Linked DNA regions of Homo sapiens: all the other regions are linked to region 3. The links come from fine-mapping of genetic effects on gene expression. A gene starts in region 3. Each other region holds a variant in brackets. All regions are shown on one strand. Distances are between the middles of the regions. Region 1 has its middle 89 kb from the start of SESTD1. Region 2 overlaps SESTD1 (SEC14 and spectrin domain containing 1). Region 3 holds the start of SESTD1 (SEC14 and spectrin domain containing 1).

Region 1 (2,768 bases), 88 kb after region 3:
GAAGAACAAAGACTAATGGAAGGAGAGTCCAACACGGAAGATACATTGCTTCTGCAGTTCAAGTCCATTTTGCTGTAGGTCACCTATGGGCCTAGCCACCTTCCTGACTTGTCATCAGCTTTTCTCTGTGTTGTCAGGCCCAGGTCAGGACACCTGGCTCCTCACAGTCACCGAGTCTCAAACCCAGAGAAAAAAGAAAAAATTTCTCCTCACCTCAGACTAATTCCTACTCACTAAGTCCTCATTTTTTGTCCCAGGATGAATATCTTCCTAGTATAATGGACAGTGGAGAACTTCTATCTGTTATAGGGAAACCCAACTACTATATAAAAGAGTGAGACTGGCTCTGTGATCCCAAGAAGAAAATAACAAAGATGATGCTTTTTCTATCATGTGGGTTAGACGGCCTTACCCTTGGGCAACTTGATGTAATATTGTTTTTACAAAAGAAATATGTAAAGTAGGTCGAATACAATTTTCCATTTCCTCTTTCACTTGACAATACATTTTGTATATCATTCCATATATGTCAACTTTATGCTTTTTAATAGCTGCATGCTGTTCCATAGTTGCATGGTTATACTATAGTTTGTTGATGAACATTTTGGTTGTTTAAACAAATACTGCCACAAGTATTTATTTCAAAATACTTTAATAGATGATGTAAATCTAGTAAGTATCCCAACATTTACCATACAACACTTTTTAAGTTGTGGTTAAATATATATATAACATAAAATTTATGATTTTAACAATTTTAAAGTATAGAGTTTTGAGGTATTACGTACATTCACATTGTGTGCAACAATCACTACCATTCATCTTCAGGACTTTTTCATCTTCCCCAGCTGAAACTTTGTACCCTTAAAGACTAACTCTGCATTCCCACTTCATTGCAGCCCCTTGCAACCACTCTTCTATTTTCTGTCTCAAAGAACTCTACTCCTCTAGGTACCTCATATAAGTGGAATAATACAGTGTTTTTCCTTTTGTGACTGCCTTATTTCACTTAGCATATGATTTCTTCAAGGTCCACTGATGTTGTAAGCATGTATCAT[C/A]ATTTCCTTCCTTTTTAAGGCTGATAATATTTCACTATATGTATATACCACATTTTGTTTATTTATTGGTTGATGGAACTTGGGTTGCTTTTGACTATTGTGAATGATGCTGCTATGAATGTAGGTATACAAATATCTGTTTCAATTCATGCTTTCAAGTTTTTGGGGTTTATATTCAGAAGTGAAATTATTGGATCATATGGTGATTCTGTTTAATTTTTTAAGGAACTGCTACATTGTTACCCATAGTAGCATTTGAGTCATTTTTAATAAAATAAAAGCCATATATATTTTTTTATTTATTTATATGTATCTGTATTATATATATTTATATATCTGTATTTTATATATATAAATAGCTTATATATATATAAATAGCCATATATAAATGGCCCTATCCTACAGAAATGCTTTACATAAAGGTACAGATATCTGTAGGATAGGGCTGGGAACAGTGGCTCACACTTGTAATCCCAGCACTTTGGGAAGTCGAGGGGGAAGGATAGTTTGAGGCCAGGTGTTCAAGACTAGCCTGGTCAACATAATGAGACCCGGTCTGTACAAAAAATAAAAAGTTAGCTAGGTATGATGGTGTGTGCCTATAGTTCTAGCTACTCAGGAGGCTGAAGCAGGAGGACTGCTTAAGCCCAGAAGTTCAAGGTTACAGTGAGCTATGATAGCACCACTGTACTCCAGCCTAGGCAACACAGTGAGACCCTTTCTCTAAAAATAAATAAAATGAAACAAGATACTATATATTACTGTTTGTTTTTTGCTGTTCCATTGGAATACATCTCTTTTACTGAGCTGAGAACATGCCATTTTATTTATTGTGGCTTGGTATCACCTTTAAACATATATTAAATCTAATCCTTCTCTCTATAACTCTTATTAAAATTGTTGTTGTTCTTGGCTATTCTCACTTGAATATTCTCTCAGATAAACTTCAGAAACATTTGTTCAAGTTTATTAAAATTCCATTAGGATGCCATTGAATTTACAGATTAATTTAGGAAAATTGACAACTGAAAATATGCAGTCTTCTTATTCAGGAACAAGACATTTTATGTCTTTATTAAAGTCATTTTAATTTATGGTTATCTCTTGATTATTCTCAGTAGAAGACAAATCTTAAAGTTTTTGTTGAGAACCACCTGTTCAGCTTGATTATCTCCTTTGTGTTTCTTAACTGCATTTATTCTCATCCTCTACATATGAACTATAACTCATTAGAGTTTGGAAGCAAGAACTTTAGAATAAAAATATCTAATTAAATTTCTACCTGAGAAAAAAGGACACAGAGCGATAGCTGTACTCTTGGCAGCAGCTCCTCCAAAGCACACGCTTCCTCTCATTTTAAAGACTCGCCTTGATCCACCTTGGGGTGGGGAGAAAATGGAGAGCAGGGAAGGCAGAGAAAGAGAAGAAAAAATGGCAGAATACCAGAGGAGGAATCATGTGGATAAATTCTTAGTTCTTGTAGAGTCAGAAATTCCATGTGTGGCCTCTTTGTTTTATTTCCAATGTTGTGAATTCTTAGAAAGTGAAATGTACTATGACTAAACATGAATGAAAAGGTCCTGTAAATTCAAATATAAATGATATTTTGGGAGATGCATAGTGCTATGTATACTTCCTCCAGGAGTGTGAATAACTGAGTACTGACAATACGCTAAAATGAAAGAATTTAAACACTTTGATTTTAATTGA
Region 2 (2,768 bases), 140 kb before region 3:
GATATAAACGGAGAGCTCTATCATCCTCTGTGGTGACAGAATAAAAGTAAGTTTGCAGATATGAGGGAAGAAATTTCTGCCTCATGACTGTTTTCTCTGTGATGCAGAAGGAAGCTTTCTGTGAAGTTTTGTTGATGATCATAAAATTTTTAAGTGTGCAAAATTTCATATAACCATGCTAGATTGTGTATATTGCATAATTTTAATCCTTTACTTTGCAATACTTTGTAGTTGCTATTGCAAACTGAGTTTTCAAAGAATCTTTTGAATTCCTAGTTTTATAGAAAATGAAACTAAACATCACTAGTCCACTGTTTAATCCTCCTACAGCAAATATGAGAACAATGAATGTGTGACATTCTGTAAGTTTAGATGAAGAAACAGATCAATGTAGATGACAAGTTTAATGGCAACTCTAAACTAAATGAAATTTAAAAAGCAAAATTATTCTTCAGTAAGTTTTTTTTAAAGCAGAAGAGTCATAGACTACACTGGGGATATGGAATTTGAAATAGTTGAGTATAATTGAAATTTTTACAACCCAATAAAAAGGAAAATGGTACCTAATAATTGAATAAATTATTACTATGTTAGTAAAATTATATACAGTAATTATCACATTCACCAAAAACCTACTACATGTCTTCTATATAACAGTTAAGAACGTTTTGTCTGTATATAAAATGTTATATAACTTCATTTTAACTAATATTGTTATTATTTTAGTAAAAAGTAATTAACGGTCAAACTTTGCCTTTGTTTTCTAAGCTGCATATCTTCCATCACTCCTTGTATGTGGTCCACATTTTCTTTATTTTCAATGGTTACATCCTTTCCATAGGCCCAGGATGCCTGATTGGAGATCTGATCCAGGAGACCTTGACCTTTTTCACGCAAACCTTGCAATCCCACATCTAAAACAAAAGTTACTAGATTTAATCTCTTACACAACTAAGGCGCTTTCCCTCCCTCAAACAAATCGTCTCATCAGATATTGTACCTGGATCCCAAGTATAGGAGCTTTGTACAGTAAACCACCTTGGGATGGAATCCCAAGACTCCATCCTATGAACATTTCAAGCAATAAAACCCTTTAAATGTAACTCGAATTGGAGCTCTCTCTCATGCCAAATTCTCCCTAAAGGGAATTTTGAAAACATGGGTTTCCATAGACAATAATTACTTTTAAAAAATGAAAGCAGAAGAAAAATATGAAAATTCCTATTTCTAATAGAAAACAATTTTCT[G/GT]TTTTTTCTTCCTGCTTTTATGCTGTCCAACTTATAGGAGAACAAGGCAAACATGTTGTTTAAAAAAGCGCATAAGCCTTGCAAAATTTTAAGACACTCCAGCAATGTATCATCAATGTCAAAGGATGTTGAACATTGTGACTAAAGATACAGTCTAGCTTCTATACCATAGGAAGCAACAATTAGGGTATATTTACAATTCTCCAAATTACATGTGTAAAGGAACTTTTTTTTTTTAAACAAAGACTGTGGCTCAAGAAAACTAATATTTTAAAAGAAAATTCATTTGTCATATTAAACACTAAATATGTATTATGCATACCATCTGTTAAAATAACAGAGGCTGGCCAGGTGCGCTGGCTCATGCCTGTAATCCCAGCACTTTGGGAGGCTGAGGTGGGCAGATCACCAGAGGTCAGGAGCTCGAGACCAGCCTGGCCAACATGGCAAAACCCCATGTCTACTATAACTACCAATACAAAAATTAGCCGGGCGTGGTGGCAGGTGCCTGTAATCCCAGCTACTTAGGAAGCTGAGGCAGGAGAATCACTTGAATCGGGGAGGCAGAGGTTGCAGTGAGCCAAGATGGCACCACTGCACTCCAGCCTGGGCAACACAGCAAGACTCCATCTCAAAAAAATAAAATAACAAAGGCTGTAAGCAAGTAAAATGTCAGTACAAGTGTGATTTTTCAAACCAATTCCCTAAGGCAGTTTTCAATAATTTGGTTTAGTCATGTGCAACCACTTTTTACTAGTTCTCTGCCTTAAGTTCCTGTTTCCTCTCTTCCATTGCCATTTCCCCTTTTGTCCCCCCTTGATACGACTCCCCACCTTCCCATTGTCACATCCTGACCTTTTAGGAAAGTTCACTGTGCTTCCTGCTGTAGAAAAATTCTAAAGGCCTTGATGTCAAATGACATCAAGCCTACATCAGCTTAATGTAACTGGACCCCTTAATGTAAATGTACCCCACTCCTTGGAGAATGGGTAATCTGACAATATTCCCAGTTTGGTGAGACAAGAACCAAAAAACCAAACCAACTATTTTTTCACAAGGTTAGGATAAAGCAACAACAAAAATCATTGCATAAAACACAATTTTGGGCATACAGGATTTACCACAGAACATTTCACAGCTAATTACAGTTCATGCATGCACTACAAATAATTGTTCATAGTATATGCAAGACACAGCACCTGTAGATATAGCTGGGTAAACAGGCAAGGGTAAAGGCCCAGTGAAGGGAGGAGTGACTAACTAACGATGAAAAATAAAATTTTCAGCATAAATTATAACCCCTCAAGGGAATAAAATCTTTTTATACTATTTTTCTGTTTCCTGAAAATAATACTAATTAGTTCAGTGTAAGTTGACTTAATTGTCTAACCATGGTAATGATATTTAAAAAAAAAAAAACCTTATGTTTCAGCATTTTTAAAATCTGCTTACCAACACTTTTCAGCTTCTCTTCAAGCAGTTTTAAAGTTTGCTGAATCGATGCTCCATCAGCTGGTGCTA
Region 3 (2,768 bases):
GGTTTGCCAAGCTATGCTGGGATACATAGTGGGCATGCTTGACACAAGCAAAACGTGAAGTAAGAGACGACCTGTCAAACAGCTGCTATCTAGTTACTCCCTCGGCAGCACTCCCAACTTCTCCCGCGATGTCTGTGTGTAAGAGAAAGATGTCAAAGCACCAAGAAAACCACGGGGGCTGTCAGAGCAACAGCCAAGTCCAAACCGTGCATCCCAGGGTGAAATCCCACCCGTACCCTCAAGAGCTGGTCAGACTGCGGCTCTTTTCTAATATGAGTCTACCTAAAATAGAAAAATAAACACAACCACAGACCCTGGCCAACCCTCTCTCTCCTCCCCTTTGTGACTCTCCCAAACGCTGGAGGGATGTTAACCTCTGGCAGGCCCGTGGAAGCCAAGCCCCGCGACCTGAGGAGGCGTCCAGGAGCCTCGGCGCAGCCCTGGGGCCTCGAGCCCGTGTCCTCCACCCACCCGACAGGGCCGGTCACCGGTCACACAAAGGAGCCAGTCGCGGGCGCTGGACGCGGGACTCGCCCGAGAGCAGGGAGCCACATCTGGTTCCTGCACGCTGGCAAAAGAGACCCGCTGGAAAATAAGGACTAACGCCCAAACCTGTTGCACAATTCGGGTCCCTTTCACCCAGAAATGAACAAGGGCGCTCAGGAACGGAAAAGCGCGCGGCCCGGTCTCTGCGGGCCGCGGCCGCACCCGGCAGACGGCGCGGAGGCAAAGGCGGCCCGCAGGGCTCCCACCTCCGGCGCTTTGTCTGTGGCGGCAAGGCGGTGGGGGCGGTCGGGGCGTTGGGAGCAGAGGCGGTGGCGGGGCGGGGGCGCCCCTCCTTCACTGCGTAGCCCCTCCGCCCCGCGGCCCGCGCAGGGGAAGAAAGCCGGGCCCGCTACCGCCGCCGCCGCCGACTGCACCGGCCCAAGCCGGCCACCCGGCCGCGGGGCCTGCGCGCTTCTCCCGCCCGGGCCGAGCGGCGGCCACACTCACCTGGCTGGCGCTGACGCTAGCGGCCGGCGGCTCCGGGGCGTTGGGGAAGACAGGGGAACGCTAGCGAGGTGCGGGCGGAGGCGGAGGGCGCGGCGGGAGGAAGGCGGGCTGGGGGCGGAGCGGGCCCGGGCGGCGGCGGCAGCAGCGGCGACGGCTGCGGCTCCAGTCACTCGCGGCAAATCGCGTCCCGGCCCCTCCGTGCGTCAGGCGGGGAGCGGGGGTGCGGGTGGCCCGGCGACCTCTCGGCACCCGCGGCCCGAGCCGCGTCCGCGCGACCCCGCGCGCGCCCGGGTGACGGCGGTACAGCAACCCGCCCGGCGCGGGAAGGAGGAAGGAGGCGGGGCGGGGCGGGGCGTCCAACCGGGCCTGGGGCTGAGGGCTGGGCGCGAGTGGGACTCTGGCGCTCCGGACGGACCCTGCCGTCCCCACCCCTAGCCGAGGCCCAGGCTCCCCAGGCGGGAGGCAGTCTTGGAGAGTGGAAGGGTACCTAGATCTGGAGTCAGAAGTCTGGGCTTAAGAGAGGGTCCGTTACTTGACACCCTGGCAGGTCATTTATTTCCTCTGGCCTCATGCTGGAGTTCGAAGGTTCGAGTACAAAGTCTCCAAGAGCTGCTCCCAAGTACTCACTGCCAAGCGGTGGTGTGGCTGAAGGATGAAGGCAGATGAAAGGGAAAGGGTTGCGGTGAGGAAGGGCTGGATTCAGGGCATTTGTTTTGCTTTGAGGATCTTTCCACTGGACAGTCCAAAATTAATCCACAATGGGGCTCCCTGATAATGGCTACTTCCCCATTTTTACCAACCTAGTTATTTTTCTCCAAGTATACTGACTTAAGAGTCCTTGTTTTCATTTTATTGCGCAAATCATTTGTATGTCATTTCCTGAATTCAGTTCAAAAGAGTCATCAGCAAATTCACACCAGATCAGAGCAGCTGTGTGGTCCCAATTTCAAGACTTCCATATTATTCACTCAGCCACTCACTTCAGTATCACCTAATTCCGTTGATAAAATCTTCCTATTCCAACAACTAAGCAACCAAATTTCTCTCCACTAAAGTTTTCTGACTTAAAATCCCGTGGATTAATTCTTCCTCTTAATTCTGTGAATATCAGTCTGTCTCCATGACTTCCACCTCTTTGCCACTCTAGGTCAAGCCTTTAACTTCACTGCTGCTTCAGTTCCATATAACTGCCAGAGAGAATGCTCCAAAAAGACAGAGCTAAGCATGAAACGTCCCTCTTTAAAATCATTCAAAGTCTCTCCACCTGGTTGAATCAGGTTCAAACTCATTACCATGGTTTACAAAGCCATTTAAAATCTGATCTATTGACCTCCTTGGCTCCAGCTTCAACTCCTAATATATCTACGTATCACACAAATTCAACAGACTTTGTCTTTGTGCCCTTGTAGTTTTCCCCCACCTGAAATCCATCCCTCATTTAACCAGTTGAACTCCTATTGTCCTTCAAGATAATGAAGATAATGCATCCCTTCCTCCTTGGAATCTTCCCTGACATCATCTCCTTTCACCACATCTGTATCCTTACCCCACACATTTACAATGAATTAAATACTCTTTTTCTCTCTGCTTTCATAAAATCGTCTATCTACAGTATTCCCTATGATAATCTTTAATACTTGCTTTTTTCCTGTTGCTTTGCTTGGTGGCCTTTTCTTCCTAGACTGTGTGTTCCTTAAAAGGACAGGGATTTTGTCTAGTTCATTTTTTTTGCTCCCCAGAACATAGCACAGTGCTCAGCACAAAAAAGGTTCTCT

What was found.
Region 1: its variant is fine-mapped to the expression of SESTD1 in whole blood (TOPMed, PIP above 0.99).
Region 2: its variant is fine-mapped to the expression of SESTD1 in whole blood (INTERVAL, PIP 0.95).

What each region holds. Positions count from the first base shown.
Region 1 is chr2:179,351,950-179,354,717 of GRCh38, forward strand. No RefSeq gene overlaps it. Among named protein-coding and RNA genes, the nearest start is that of SESTD1, 89 kb to the left of the region's middle. The variant C/A (reference allele first, on the strand shown) is at 1,059.
Region 2 is chr2:179,121,016-179,123,783 of GRCh38, forward strand. It overlaps SESTD1 (SEC14 and spectrin domain containing 1), which reads right to left. Exons shown (of 18, transcript NM_178123.5): 12 at 2,700-2,768; 13 at 755-914. Among named protein-coding and RNA genes, the nearest start is that of CCDC141, 72 kb to the left of the region's middle. The variant G/GT (reference allele first, on the strand shown) is at 1,248.
Region 3 is chr2:179,263,506-179,266,273 of GRCh38, forward strand. It overlaps SESTD1 (SEC14 and spectrin domain containing 1), which reads right to left and starts at 1,327. Exons shown (of 18, transcript NM_178123.5): 1 at 994-1,327. RefSeq lists an enhancer at 59-128 and silencers at 457-620, 729-798, 809-1,428.